Homo sapiens: one gene and its partner. The protein of the gene in region 1 purifies or fractionates together with the protein of each later gene. This does not show direct contact. Each region holds a gene or a part of one and is shown on either strand. Other genes may lie near its edges.

Region 1 (7,484 bases):
ACTTTATTTACCCAATTGCAAACAGCAGTTAGAAATAGAATACACCCTTTTTACATCACTCACACTAGGGCTCATACACCTCTTCCAGGACCTTTAACTGAAGGGAATCAAATGGCTGATGGCCTAGTTGCTACTACAATATCTAATGCCAGACACTTTCACAATTTAACCCATGTTAATGCCTCTGGTCTCAAATGCAGATACAGCATTACCTGGAAAGAAGCTAAAGCTATTATTCAGTGATGCCCAACTTGCCAAATGGTGCATTCCTCATCTTTTATAGGAGGAGTTAATCCTCAAGGATTGGAACCTAATTCTCTTTGGCAAATGGATGTCACACATGTTCCCTCGTTTGGGAGACTAGCTTATGTACATGTATGTGTGGACACCTTTTCTCAGTCTGACTGGGTTACATGCCAAACAGGAGAGTCTTCTGCCTGTGTTAAACGTCACCTTTTGCAGTGTTTTGCAGTGATGGGCATTCCAGCTTCTATTAAAACAGATAATGCCCCAGGCTATACTAGCCAAGCTCTAGCTACATTTTTCTCCATATGGAATATTAAACACATTATTGGCATTCCATACAATTCTCAAGGATGAGCCACAGTGGAAAGAATGAATCTGTCCCTGAAACAGCAGTTGCAAAAGCAAAAAGGGGGAAACAGGGACTACAGGACACCCCATATGCAACTGAATCTAGAATTATTGACTTTAAATTTTTTGAGCCTGCCTAAAGGCCAGATGCTATCAGCAGCTGAACAATATCTACAGAAACCAGCTGCAAAGACAGAAGCAGAACAACTGGTTTGGTGGAGAGATCTGATAACAAAAAGTTGGGAAATAGGTAAAATAATAACTTGGGGTAGAGGTTATGCTTGTGTTTCCCCAGGATGAAATCAACAGCCAATCTGGGTGCCATTGAGACATCTAAAGCCTTACTATGAGCCAGATACCCAGGAAGAGGTTTTGGGAGGATCCCAAAGACTCCCTGGTTGCAGCCATGTCAAGACTGATGCTGAGGAGGACCCCAACTGTCACGAGCAACAACTGCCTGGGGACAGATCAAGAAGCTGTCACAGATGGCAGAGAAAAACCTGAGAAAAGCGGGACAACCAGTCACAATGAGTAATTTAATGATAGCTATGACAGTGGTGATCACCATTGCCATGAGTATTCCTTCAACAAGGGCTGACACAGAGAACAATTACACTTATTGGGCATATTTATCAATCTTGGCTGGCAATAATGCCTGGATGTGATCACTCTATGACACAGTTACACATGCTTTCTGGTCTCAGTATTTACCATAATAATCTGCTCCTATAATTGAGGCATACTGCCCTCAAAAAACTATTTGTAAACAGGATTGGACCTGGTCAGAAAAAATGAACGTACTTGTTTGGGAAGATTGCATTGCAGAACAGGCAGAGGTGCTGCACAACGATTCCTATGGAGTCATTATTGATTGTTCCCCTAAGGGGATGTTTAGCTTGAATTGCACCTCTCAGTCTGCCTGCCATGGCCACACTATGTTCAGCTGGTCTGAACAAAATGGTCAGATGGTAGAAATGATAAGAAGTATGGCAAGAGTTCCTATTATCTGGAAACATGGTGGTATAGTGGCACCTCAACCTCAAATGATATGGCCTGCTGTAGGAGCTAAACATAAGGATTTGTGGAAACTATTAATGGCTCTTAATAAGATCAAAATTTGGGAAAGGATAAAAAAGCATCTAGAAGGACACTCTAGAAACTTGGATATTGCAAAATTAAAAGAACAAATATTTAAAGCATCCCAGGCACACCTGACCTTAATGCCAGGAACTGGAGTGCTTGAAGGAGCTGCAGATGGATTAGCAGCTATTAACCCATTAAAATAGATAAAAACACTTGGAGGCTCTGTGATTTCAATGATGATTGTGCTTTTAATCTGTGTTGTCTTTGTATAGTCTGCAGATGTGGATCCCAACTCCTGCGAGATGTAGCTCACCATGATAAAGCCACCTTTGCTTTTATTGTCTTGCAAAAACAAAAAGGGGGAACATGTTGGGGACAGGCTCCCAAATCTGGCCATAAACAAAATCTCTGCAGCACTGTGACATGTTCATGATGGCTATGATGCCCACACTGAAGGTTGTTCATTTACTGGAATGAGGGCAAGGAACACCTGGCCCACCCAGGGCGGAAAACTGCTTAAAGGTGTTCCTAACCCACAAACAATAGTATGAGCAATCTGGGCCTTAAGGACATGTTCCTGCTGCAGATAACTAGCCAGAGCCCATCCCTTTGTTTCACATAAGGAATATTTTTAGTTAATCTATAATCTACAGAAACAATGCATATCACTGGCTTGCTGTCAATAAATGTGGGTAAATCTCTTTTCATGGCTTTCAGCTCTGAAGGCCGTCAGCCCCGATTTGCCACTCCACATTCTATTATTTCTCTGAGTGTGTCTTTAATTCCTCTAGCACCACTGGGTTAGGGTCTCCATGACCAAGCTGGTCTTGGCACTTAGGCTTCAGCTGATATAGATATATGTCAGGACCAGGTATAGAATTTGCATGTCTTTCTTCCATTTGGTGAATTCTCTTGCAATTTCTGTTTTTTAAGGCTATAGCAACCAGTATTCCCAGGAATTCTACAAACCATGTACTAACCTGGCCTGAACCTGCTTAGCTGCTAAGATCAGGTGCATTCAGAGTGGCATGACCATATACTCTTTTATCTTTTTTTGTTTTTTTCAATTTTGTTTTTTTGAGACAGGGTCTCACTCTGTCACTTAGTCTGGAGTGCAGTGGTATGATCATATTTCACTGTGGCTTCAATCACCTGGGCTCAAGTGATCCTCCCACCACAGCCTCCCCAGTACATAGGACTGAAGTACCATAGGAAGAACTGTGACCTAAGAAAAAACAAGTGGGACCCATGTAGATTATCTGCTCAATGTTATGGTCAAATGACTACTGCTATAAAAAACAAAATCCATTAATCAAGAAAGTGAACTACCATTCCATGGAAGGTTCGTTACTAAGTAAAAATAAAATATGATATAAAATATCACATATCTGATATCAACTGCATAAAAAAATGTAAAAATAAAATATACTGATAGGGATGCATACCCAGGTTATGAAACTATGAAGAAAATAAGAAAACAATAATTATCATTCGCAATACTGGCTCCATCAATATTTTGGTTCACTGTGAAATTGTTTTATGTGTTTTGACCATATGTAATATTTTTAGTTTCTAGAGTGGAAACTCTGTGCAGAAATAACTATCAGTGCACATGGAAATACCAGCAACAACCTACTGAATATAATTTTTAAAAAGACAACATAGCCTGTTAAACAAATTTGTATTACAGTTAATTTTCTTTTTAAAAATGTTTTTATTATTTTTGTTTTGTTTAGGGACAGGTTCTTGCACTGTCACCCATGCTATGGTGCAGGGGCATGATGACAGCTCACTGTAGCCTTGACTTCCCAGGCTCAAGCTATCCCTACCTTCCTGAGTAGATGATAATACAGGCTCCTGCCACCACACATGGTGAATTTCTTAATTTTTGTGAAGACGGGGTCTCTTTATGTTGTCCAGGTTGGTCTCAAACTCCCGGGCTCAAGCCATTCTCCCACCTTGGCCTCCAAAAGCAATTAATTTTCTTGAAGTCCCAAAAAGTCTCAGAAAGGATATAAAATTATTATTATCCAAAAAGTACCCATGGAAAGATATCAATGGAAAATGTAATAAATGTAAAGATGTCATATGTCCTTAAACACACACTGATTATCACTGTGATGTAATCTCTCTGAAATACATCTAGTATTTTATTATATTCCATGAAATGCATAGGCAGGTTTGTTTTTTCATTAAAATTAAGAAAAACTACTTCTAAACACTGAAATAGAAGACAATGACTAAGAATAGCCAGCATAAGCTGGGTGTGGTAGCTCACACCTGTAATCCCAGCACTTTGGGAGGTGGAGGTGGGCGCATCACCTGAGGTCAGGAGTTCAAGACCAGCCTAGCCAACATGGTGAAACCCCTCTCTACTAAAAATACAAAAATTAGCCTGGCATGGTGGCATGTGCCTGTAGTCCCAGCTACTCGGGAGGCTGAGGCAGGGAGAATTACTTGAACCCGGGAGGCGGAAGTTGCAGTGAGCTGAGATTGCACCACTGCACTCCAGCCTCGGTGACAGAGCAAGACTCTGTCTCAAAAAAAAAAAAAAAAAAAAAAAAAAAAGCCAGGATGTTGTATAAAATATGACTAAGGGATGTTAATGACATAAATGTTTGCATTTTCCCACTCCAAATCATACAGTGACACCCTAACCTGTAATACGATGGAATTAAGATGGCATCTCTGAGAAGTCATTAGAATTAGATTAGAGCATGAGAGTAGATCCCTCGTGAATGGGATTAGTACTCTTATGAGACACAGGATAGCTTGTTTCCTCTTTCTCTCTGTCATGTGAAAAAATAAAAAAATAGCTGGCCGGGCGCGGTGGCTCACACATGTAATCCCAGCACTTTGGGAGCCTGAGGTGGGTGGATCACGAGGTCAGGAGTTTGAGACCAGCCTGGCCAAGATGGTGAAACCCTGCCTCTACTAAAGAATACAAAAAATTAGCTGGGCACGGTAGCAGGCACCTGTAATCCCAGCTACTCGGAAGGCTGAGGCAGGAGAATTGCTTGAATCCCAGAGGCAGAGGTTGCAGTAAGCCGAGATCGCACCACTGCACTCCAGCCTGGGTGACAGAGCAAGACTCCATCTCAAAAAAAAAAAAAAAAAAAAAAAAATAGCCATCTGCAAACCAGGAAGCAGGCTCTTACCAGGCACCAGATCTGTCAGCACCTTGAACATGGACTTCATAACTTCCAGGCTTCCAGAACTGTCAGAAAGAAATGTTTATTTTTTTATTTTTTTATTTTTTTGAGACGGAGTCTCACCGTCACCAGGATGGAGTGCAGTGGCATGATCTCAGCTTACTGCAACCTCTGCCTCCCAGGTTGAAGTGATCCTCCTACCTCAGCCTCCTGAGTAGCTGGGACTACAGGTGCGCATCACCAAGCCCAGCTAATTTTTTCTATTTTTAGTAGAGACAGGCTTTCACCATGTTGGCCAGGATAGTCTCGATCTCTTGACCTCGTGATCCACCTGCCTCAGCCTCCCAAAGTGCTGGGATTACAGGCGTGAGCCACCATGCCCGGCCTAGAAATTATTCTTTAAGTCACCCGGTTTATGGGAATTTGATATAAAAGCCCAAGATGACTAAGATAGATAGGCACTAGCCCTAGAATACATCACAGCTTTGAGATCTATACTAATAAAGAGAAAATGATATTAACAGAGAGATGGAAATATAGACCAATGGAGAGGGTCCATGGGTACAAAAACACAGAAAAAATGAATAAGACTAAGCATTTGCAAGCACAACAGGTTGACTATAGTAAAAAATAATATATTGTACATTTTGAAATAACTAAAAGAGCTGGGCATACTGGCTTATGCCTGTAATCCCAGCACTTTTGGAGGTGGAGGCAGGATTACTTGAGCTCAGGAATTCGAGACAAGCCTGAGCAACATGGTGAAACCCCGTCTCTATGAAAAATACAAAAATTAGCTGGGTGTGGTGGAAAACACCTGTAGTTCTAGCTATTTGGGAAGCTGAAGCAGGAAGATCACTTGAACCTGGGAGGTGGGGGTTGCAGTGGTGTGGCTGGCTCACGCCTGTACTCCCAGCACTTTGGGAGGCTGAGGTGGGCAGATCACGAGGTCAAGAGATTGAGACCATTCTGGCCAACACGGTGAAACCCCGTCTCTACTAAAAATACAAAAATTAGCTGGATGTGGTAGTGCGTGCCTGTAGTCCCAGCTACTTGGGAGGCTGAGGCAGGAGATTTGCTTGAACCCAGGAGGCGGAGGTTGCAGTGAGCAGAGATTGCGCCACTGCACTCCAGCTTGTTGATAGAGTGAGACTCCATCTCAAAAAAAAAAAAAAAACAAAACAAAAAAAAAAACAAAGCAGCTGACCAACATTCATGTTAAAATAGATATCAAGCCAGGCACAGTGGCTCACACCTGTAATCCCAGCACTTTGGGATGCCAAGAAGGGGCGGATCACTTGATGTCAGGAATTCAAGATCAGCCTAGCCAGCATGGCGAAACCCCTTCTCAACTAAAAAAAATACAAAAATTAGCTGGGCGTGGTGGCAGTCACCAGCTACTCAGGAGGCTAAGGCACAAGAATCGCTTGGACCCAGGAGGTGGAGGTTGCAGTGAGCCAAGATCGTGCCACTGCACTCCAGCCTAGGCAACACAGTGAGACTCTGTCTAAAAAATAAAGTAATATCAAAAGACAAAACAGACTCTTTGTGGAAATAAGACACGAAATCTTGGCAATACAGGAAGACCTCATCCCTACAAAAAATAACTAGCTGGGCAGAGTGGCATGCACCTGTGAGCCCAGCTACTCGGGAGGCTCACGATGATTGCTTGAGCCCAGGAGGTCAAGGCTGTAGTGAGCTGTGATCACACCAGTACACTCCAGCCTGGGTGACAGCAAGACCCTTTAAAAAAAAAAAAAAAAAGTCCTCCATCCTGCAAAGAACTGTTTTTTTTTTTTCTTTCTCTTTTTCTTTTTTTTTTTTTGAGATGGAGTTTCACCGTTGCCCAGTCTGGAGTGCAGTGGCGCAATCTCGGCTCACCGCAACCTCTGCCTCCCAGGTTCAACCAGTTCTCCTGCCTCAGCCTCCCGAGTAGCTGGGACTACAGGCTTGTGCCACCATGCCCGGCTTTTTTTTTGTATTTTTAGTAGAGACAGGGTTTCACCATGTTGGCCAGGATGGTCTCGATCTCCTGACTTGGTGATCTGTGCGCCTCGACCTCCCAAAGTGTTGGGATTACAGGCGTGAGCCACCACGCCTGGCCAGAACTGATATTTTGGGTACTCTTTGTAATTCACCAATCTACCATACTTTCTTGTGGAAATTATTTCATTTTTCTCCAGTTAAAATAGTAAACTTTCCCTATTTTTCTCCAGTAGCATTCCTAAAACTAGTCCCTATAACATCATTGGAAATCACCCACAACAAAAGGATACACCTGAGAAATGTACTACACTGCCCGCAGAGAAGAAAAAAACATATTAAGAAATGGAATATAAGACTAAATAGCGATTTTTTTTTTTTTTTTGAGATGGAGACTCGCCCTGTAGTGCAGGCTGGAATACAGTGGTGCAATGTCAGCTCACTGCAGCCTCCACCTCCCAGGTTCAAGGGATTCTCGTGCCTCAGTCTCCCTAGTAGTTGGGATTATAGGCATGCACCACTATACTCAGCTAACTTTTGTATTCTTAGTTGAAACAGGGTTTCATCATGTTGGCCAGGTTGGTCTTGAACTCCTGACCTCAGGTGATCCACCTGCCTTGGCCTCTCAAAGTGCTGGGATTACAGGTGTGAGCCACTGCATCCAGCCATTTT
Region 2 (7,484 bases), on another chromosome or scaffold:
TTTTGCTATGTTGTCCAGGCTAGCCTCAAACTCCTGGGCTCGGGTGGTCCTCCTACCTCAGCCTCCTAAGTAGCTGGGACTATAGGCACACGCTACTGTGCCTGGCAACCATTTGCTTTTTTATAAGTAATAGTCTTAAATTTCTTCACAGGTAGAGCACTAGTTTGCCCCCAAAGTCATAAATTTGTCTCTCTCTCTTTCTGACTGTGCATGTCTGTGTGTGTGTGTGTGTGTGTGTGTGTGTGTGTGTGTGTGTGTGTGTATGTGTAATGGTCTTTGGAGTCTCCATACCATGTAATTAAAGCTATGGGCAGAATCCATGCCTTTTGTATTTTTGAAGCTTATTGTAGAAGTCATGTGTTGGTGATTCCTACACCCACTTAGTGGTGCCTAATGTTAGAAGAGCCCCATATTCTCCTGTTTACTTATGTTTTCTGTGCCTAAAAGGATTTACAGGTTAAGAGTACATGTAGACCTCATTTTTGGAATGGAAGTTTCTAGGATACCCACTTTAGCCTAATCTAAGATGATGCTTAGTGGGTGTATAGATGCTTTCTTAATCTGTGTAAGCAGGAAATTTTTTTTGGGTCCTGTTTCTCCCATATCACATAGAGAGGAAATTCTTGGAGTATCTAGTCTTTATAGTATGTGTGGTAGAGTATAGTCTGTGCCTTTGTGAATAAAATGACCTGTTTTGGCCAAGCAAAAATTTTCCCTTTTCTTTTTCTGTCTGACAAGATGAGCTGTCTTCTTTTATTATTATTGCCTTTGAATTTTCAGTGTGAAAAGGTAACAGTGTTCTTCAAAAAATACTCATGTAATTGGCATTTGATGAATAATACTAAAATCCTCCGTCTCATCTTTCCTAAATATTTTGTTTATTTTTATTTATTTTTTTGAGACAGGGTCTCATTCTGTCACCCAGGCTGGAGTGCAGTGGCACGATCTTGGCTCACTGCAACCTCCGCCTCCTGGGTTCAAGCGATTCTTCTGTCTCACCCTCCTGAGTAGCTGGGATTACAGATATCCACCACCACTCCCAGGTAATTTTTATATTTTTGGTAGAGACAGCGTTTTGTCACGTTGGCCAGGCTGGTCTCAAACTTCTGGCCTCAAGTGATTCTCCCACCTTGGTCTCCCAAAGTGTTGGGATTACAGGTGTGAGCCACCATGCCTGGCCTTCATTTTTCCTAAATATTTATAACCACCGGGCATGGTGGCTCACGCCTGTAATCACAGCACTTTGGGAGGCCAAGGCGGGTGGATCAGCTGAGGTCAGGAGTTAGAGACCAGCCTGGCCAACATGGCAAAATTCTGTCTCTATTAAAACAAAAAATTAGCCGGGCTTGGTGGAGGGCGCCTGTAATCTGAGTTACTCAGGAGGCTGAGGGAGGAGAATCGCTTGAACCCAGGAGGCAGAGGTTGCAGTGAGCCGAGATCACGCCACTGCCCTCCAGGCAGGGTGACAGAGAGAGACTCTGTCTCAAAAAAAAAAAAAAATAAATTATTTTAGAAACAAGTACCTAGACATCCAAAAAGATGATGAATTGGTGTGTAGTTTGGGAGTGAAGTTTGTCTTGTTGCTCTAATGGGGCAGGATTAGGTGAGAAATAAGAAATGTGGAGCCCTAGTATTTTTGCTCTAGAATTAGTTGGTCTTCTACATTTTGTGTACAGAGGAGTAGACCCTCTAAGGACCTCTTTATATTTAATATCAGAGCCAAGAGCTGAGAAAAAACAAGCTACTCTTTCTTGCTGGCCAAGCAAAAGACCTTTTGGTTAGAGGAATGGACTCACATCTTTCAGTACATTTTTTTTTTTTTTTTGAGATGGAGTCTTGTCGCCCAGGCTGGCACGATCTTAGCTCACTGCAACCTCTGCTTCCTGCATTCAAGTGATTCTCCTGCCTCAGTAGTGAGATTACAAGTGCGTGCCACCATGCCTGGCTAATTTTTCTATCTTTAGCAGAAATGGGGGTTTCACCATATTGGCCAGGCTGGTCTCGAACTCCTGACCTCAGGTGATCTGCTCGCCTAGGTCTCCCAAAGTGCTGGGATTACAGCCGTGAGTCACCCACCTGGCCCTTTTGTTATTTTAAACATTGGGGTAAATACCTGCTTCGTATTTCTTCAGGCATTCTTAGCATGTTTCTTAGCTATCGAAGCCCTTGATTAGAAGAGCTAGCACTGCATTGAATCCTATTAAGAAATGTATCCATGTTCAGAATAGAAGTTAGGTTAAAAATTTCTTAAAAACCACTTTAGGCCTGGTGCGGTGGCTAACGCCTGTAATCCCAGCACTTTGGGAGGCCGAGGTGGGTGGGTCACAAGATCAGGAGTTTGAGACCAGCCAGACCAACATGGTGAAACCCCATCTCTACTAAAAAACAAAAATTAGGTGGGCGTGGTGGCACGCACCTGCAATCTCAGCCTACTCAGGAGGCTGAGGCAGGAGAATTGCTTGAACCTGGGAGGCAGAAGTCGCAGTGAGCTGAGATCGCGTCACTGCACTCCAGCCTGGGTGACAGAGTGAGACTCCATCTCCAAAAAAAAAAAAAAAACCACTTTAAAAAATGGTTTTTATTTTAAATTTTTATTTATTTATTTTGAGATTAGGATTACAGGTGTGAGCCACCACACCCAGCCTATTTTTATTTATTTATTTATTTTTAGAGATGGGCTTTTGCTCTGTCACCCAGGCTGGAATGCAGTGGCATGATCATAGTTCACTGCAACCTCGAATTCCTGGGCTCAAGCAATCCTACTGCCTCAGCCTCCCAAAGAGCTAGGTCTAACTAGAGGTGTACTCCACCACTCCACCTGATTTAAAAAAAAAAAAATGTTGCCCAGGCTAGTCTTGAACTCCTGGCCTCAAGGGATCCTTCTGCCTGGGCCTCCAAAAATGCAGAGATTACAAGTTGTAAGCCACTGTGCCTGACCGAAAAACCAATTTTTAAATTTTAATTTTAGAATTGTGGTCTTTTAATTTTTTTAGCAAATCGAAATAAAAATACAGTTTCTAAAGAAAAGATTGTGTGAGACATGGTTTTCAATTTTTGTCGTAAGAATGAATGTGTGTGTATATGTGTGTTTGTGTGTGTATGTGTGTGTGTGACGGCCCTCTTTTAAAATTATTACAAAAGTGGCCGGGCGCGGTGGCTCACGCCTGTAATCCCACCACTTTGGGAGGCCAAAGCGGATGGATCATCTGAGGTCAGGAGTTTGAGACCAGCCTGGCCAACATGGTGAAAGCCTGTCTCTACTAAAAATACAAAAATTAGCTGGGTATGGTGGCAGGCGCCTGTAATCCTAGCCACTTGGGAGGCTGAGGCAGGAGAATCTCTTGAACCCGGGAGACGGAGGCTGCAGTCAGCCAAGATCATACCAGTGCACTCCAGTCTGGGTAACAGAGCAAGACTCCATCTCAAAAAATTAGAAAATAATAAAATTATTACAAAATAGTTACTTGTTGAAAAACTCAACAATATAGATAGTAGGTATAAGGGGAAAAGTAAAAGTGCTTCTTCCCACCCCCATTAATTCTTCAAATTCTACCCTTCAAGGTAACCAATATTAAAATTTTTCATTCAGTAAATTTTCTAGGCCTATCTTTCTATGTATATATGTATATATGTTCATATACACATACTTTAAAGGCATATCAAATTTAAAAGTGTAGCTTTATATCACACTGAGGTTTTTTTCTTGAAGCAGGTGCTGTATTTACAATTATATAAAAGCACGCAGAAATTGTATTTAGCTCTGAAAATATAGCACAAGCTTTGTAGGGATTCCTTTTTCCCTGAAAATTACTTTTAACATCAAAAGCAAAAGTCATACAGAAATCCCATCCTGATTTTCTCCAGTAGGTAAGGAGTTGGGTCATATCCTTTAAGATTGTTTATGATCTATATATAATCTGTTTTTTAATTTTTAATTAAATTTTTTTTACCGTTATGTGTTTTGAGAGATGGGGGTCTCGCTTTTTTGCCCAGGCTGGCTGTTGCCCTGGCTACACAGTGCGGTGGCATGGTCATAACTCTATGTGGTCTCCCACTCCTGGGCTCAAGCAATCCTTCTGCTTCAGCCTCCCAAGTAGTCAGGACTACAGGGGACTATAGGTGTGCACCACAATACTTGGCTAGTATGATCTATAATCTAGAGCAGTTTCTCAAGAGCAACATATAGACATTTTGGGACAGAGAATTCTTTGTTGTGAGGGGCTCTCCTGTGCATTAGAAGCATCCCTGGCCTCTACCCACTAGATGCCAGTAGAACCCGATTATGATAGCCAAAAATTGTTCAGACGTTGCCAAATGTCTCCTAGGGACAAAATCACTCCTGGTTGAGAGCTACCGGTCTAGAGGCCACTCTTGTCAGGAATGGTAGTTTTGTTATACTCTGTATTCAAACTTAAGGTAAACAAGGTGAGTCACTGCTTTTAATAGCATTTCAGGACTTATGCTTATAACCTGAACAAGGGAGAAATAGAAGGTACTGAAAGGTTTAATATAAAACTAGCATGCACTGCTGTAAATTTTCTATGGTAAATGTATCATTTTGGGGAACTTTCACTTAAAATATATTATTTTTCAAAAAGTTCAGTTGTCCATGAAAATGAATTTTTAAAAAACTTTTATGGGGACTTCCAGTTTGTTCAAAGTAGAAATGCTTTATTCCATAAATTATCATTTGTAGTGATAACATAGGAAATATAACTTTGTATTCTAGTGGGCTAATTTTGGAGACTTTGGAAATGCTTATTGAATAAAAAGAATTATATGTTATTACTGTAACAATTTTTTTTTTTTTTTTTTGAGTCAGAGGAGCCTTGCTCTGTCACCCAGGCTGGAGTGCAGTGGCAGGATCTCGGCTCACTGCAGCCTCCACCTCCTGGGTTCAAGTGATTCTCCTGCCTCAGCCTCCTGAGTAGCTGGGACTACAGGCCCGTGCCACCACGCTCGGCTAATTTTTTGTATTTTTAGTAGAGACGGTGTTTCACTGTGTTACCCAGGATGGTCTCGGTCTCCTGACCTTGTGATCCACCCGCCTCAGCCTCCCAAAGTGCTGGGATTACAGGTGTGAGCCACCGCGCCCAGCCACAATTTTTTGTATGTTGCACAAATATCAACCTTTCACAAGCTTCATGATGTAAAGCCTTAAGACTTTACATATAAAATGATGCATTGATAAGTATATTTATGTGAATGGTGGGGTTGATGCAGAGTTGATTAGTATGGGTGGAGGAAAACTTTTTGGGAAACTTTAAGTATGAGAGGTTTTTGTTGTTATTAGTATATTTTCAATAGATAATTACATTCATATAGTTCATAAGTCAAAGTAATATAAGGGCAGATACAGTGAAGTCTCAATCTCACCCTGCTCCCACATATCTTGCTCTTTATACTTTTAATAAAAGTATTATATAGCCTTTCAGAATTTCTTTATGAAAATACAACTATGTGTATTTTCCCTACTGTTACACAGATGGTAAGATGCTATTTATGTGAAATTTTTAAATGGTAAATTTGAGAAGGATTTAGACTTTTTTAAAAAATTAAAGTGATAAATTATGTTATGAATGAAGGATGGAGGTGAGTTTAAGCACATTCCTTTCTGAGTCTATTTGTTAGTAGAGTGCTGATTGACTAGATGAATTCAAAATCAGTTCTGGCCTTCTGATTCAGTGATCACTAATATAAATAAAATATGTTACTTTAAAGAAAAGCAAAACAGTTTTAAACAGTTTTAGCCTTGAATTGGCAAGTAAACAAAATAAATGACAAGTTTACCAAATTTTTTTTTTTGGCCAAATTTACTTTCTCAGAACTAAAGTTGTAATAAATAAAATCAATTCTTTTTTTAAACCCACTATAAAGGAACTGTTTCAATGTATCTGTCTTCACAGACCTTATTGATCACATTTCCCTCTCCTATTGCTTGTCTATAGAGTCATAGAATCTTGGTGATAATCCTATCTCATCTCATTTTTAGGTAACTGCTACCATTTATTGAATGCTTATTATATACCAGTACCGTACTAGATACTTTCGTTATTTTATTTAATCGTTTCATCACCCCTTTGAGGTAGGTATTATCTACATTTTTATAGATGAATAAGTGTAGGCTCAGAGAGTTTTTAGAGTAATGAATCTAAAAAACAAAAAAATGGTTAAAATGTTATATGGCTAGTGACTGGTAAAGGTGGGATTTGAATGTGATACTGAATTTAGAGCCCATACTGTTATTTTGCTTCAAATTAAGAAATATGTAGTTTTTGGTTACCAAATGCTGTTTTTTAAATAAATCATTGTTTAGTTCCTATTGAAGTTTTCACAGATGTAAAGTAAAATGGAGAAAATAAGCAGGATGTAGTGAATTTCTAATGAAGCTATTTTTTCCCACTTTTTTCTATTTTGACAAATACTCTTCCTACTTTTACAAAATGAATTTTTAAAACTATCTGTACTTAACAGAATATCAACTGGAAACTTCATTTGGGACCCTGGATAAAAGCCTCAGAAGTCTGGGAACTGTTGAGCTAAATGACTTGCCCAGATCACACAGTTAATATGTAGCAGTCAAGACTGAAAAATAGGCCATCTGATTCCCATTCTAGTTATCCTACCTTCCAGATTCTCCTAACTTTCTTTTGATGCATTATATTAATGAGTTTAATTAGTTGCTTATAAATGCCTCTTTCAAACTATTATAGTTTATAATCCATAGTTGATCTTGTTGGAAAAGTTTTTTTTTTTTTTTGGCTGTTTTTTTTTTGGTTTGTTTGAGAACGGAGTCTCACTCTGTTGCCCAGGCTGGAGTGTAATGGTGCAATCTTGGCTCACTGCAACCTCTGCCTCCCGAGTTCAAGCAATTCTCCTGCCTCAGCCTCCTGAGTAGCTGGGATTATAGGCGGCCACCACCATACCCAGCTAATTTTTTTTTGTATTTTTAGTAGAGATGGGGTTTCACCATGTTGGCCAGGCTGGTCTCGAACTCCTGACCTCAGACTATCTGCCCACCTCAGCCTCCCAAAGTGCTGGGATTATAGGCTTGAGCCACTGTGCCTGGCCTTTTTTTAAATTTTTTTTTTTTTGAGACAGGGTCCCGTTATGTCACCCAAGCTGGAGTGCGGTGGTGCAGGAGTGCAGTGGCTCACGATCGTATGGCGCAATCACGGCTCAGGCAGCCTTGACCTTCTGGGCTCAAGCGATCCTCCCCTTTCAGCCTCCCAAGTGTCTGGGACCACAGGCGCACACCACCGTACCCTGCTAATTTTTAAATTAAATTTAATTAATTAATTTTTTCCGACACACAGTCTTAGTTGCCCAGGCTGGAGTGCAGTGGCGGATCTCAGCTCACTGCAACCTCCGCCTCCTGGGTTCAGGCAATTCTCCTGCCTTAGCCTCCCAAGTAGCTAGGATTACAGGTGCGTGCCACCATGCCCCGCTAATTTGTTGTATTTTTAGTAGAGATGGGGTTTCAC

Evidence for each region. The genes of interacting proteins can lie anywhere in the genome.
Region 2: the proteins of ZNF433 (region 1) and ANKHD1 purify together in Homo sapiens (affinity purification with mass spectrometry, with the first as the bait; 2 studies listed by BioGRID). This does not show direct contact.

What each region holds. Positions count from the first base shown.
Region 1 is NC_000019.10:12,025,305-12,032,788, forward strand, and holds part of ZNF433 (zinc finger protein 433), read right to left. Parts: intron 4,895-7,484; exon of another isoform or gene 4,836-4,894; intron 1,891-4,835; exon of another isoform or gene 890-1,890; intron 1-889. UniProt on the Homo sapiens protein: May be involved in transcriptional regulation.
Region 2 is NC_000005.10:140,404,753-140,412,236, forward strand, and holds part of ANKHD1 (ankyrin repeat and KH domain-containing protein 1), read left to right. Parts: intron 1-7,484. UniProt on the Homo sapiens protein: May play a role as a scaffolding protein that may be associated with the abnormal phenotype of leukemia cells. Isoform 2 may possess an antiapoptotic effect and protect cells during normal cell survival through its regulation of caspases.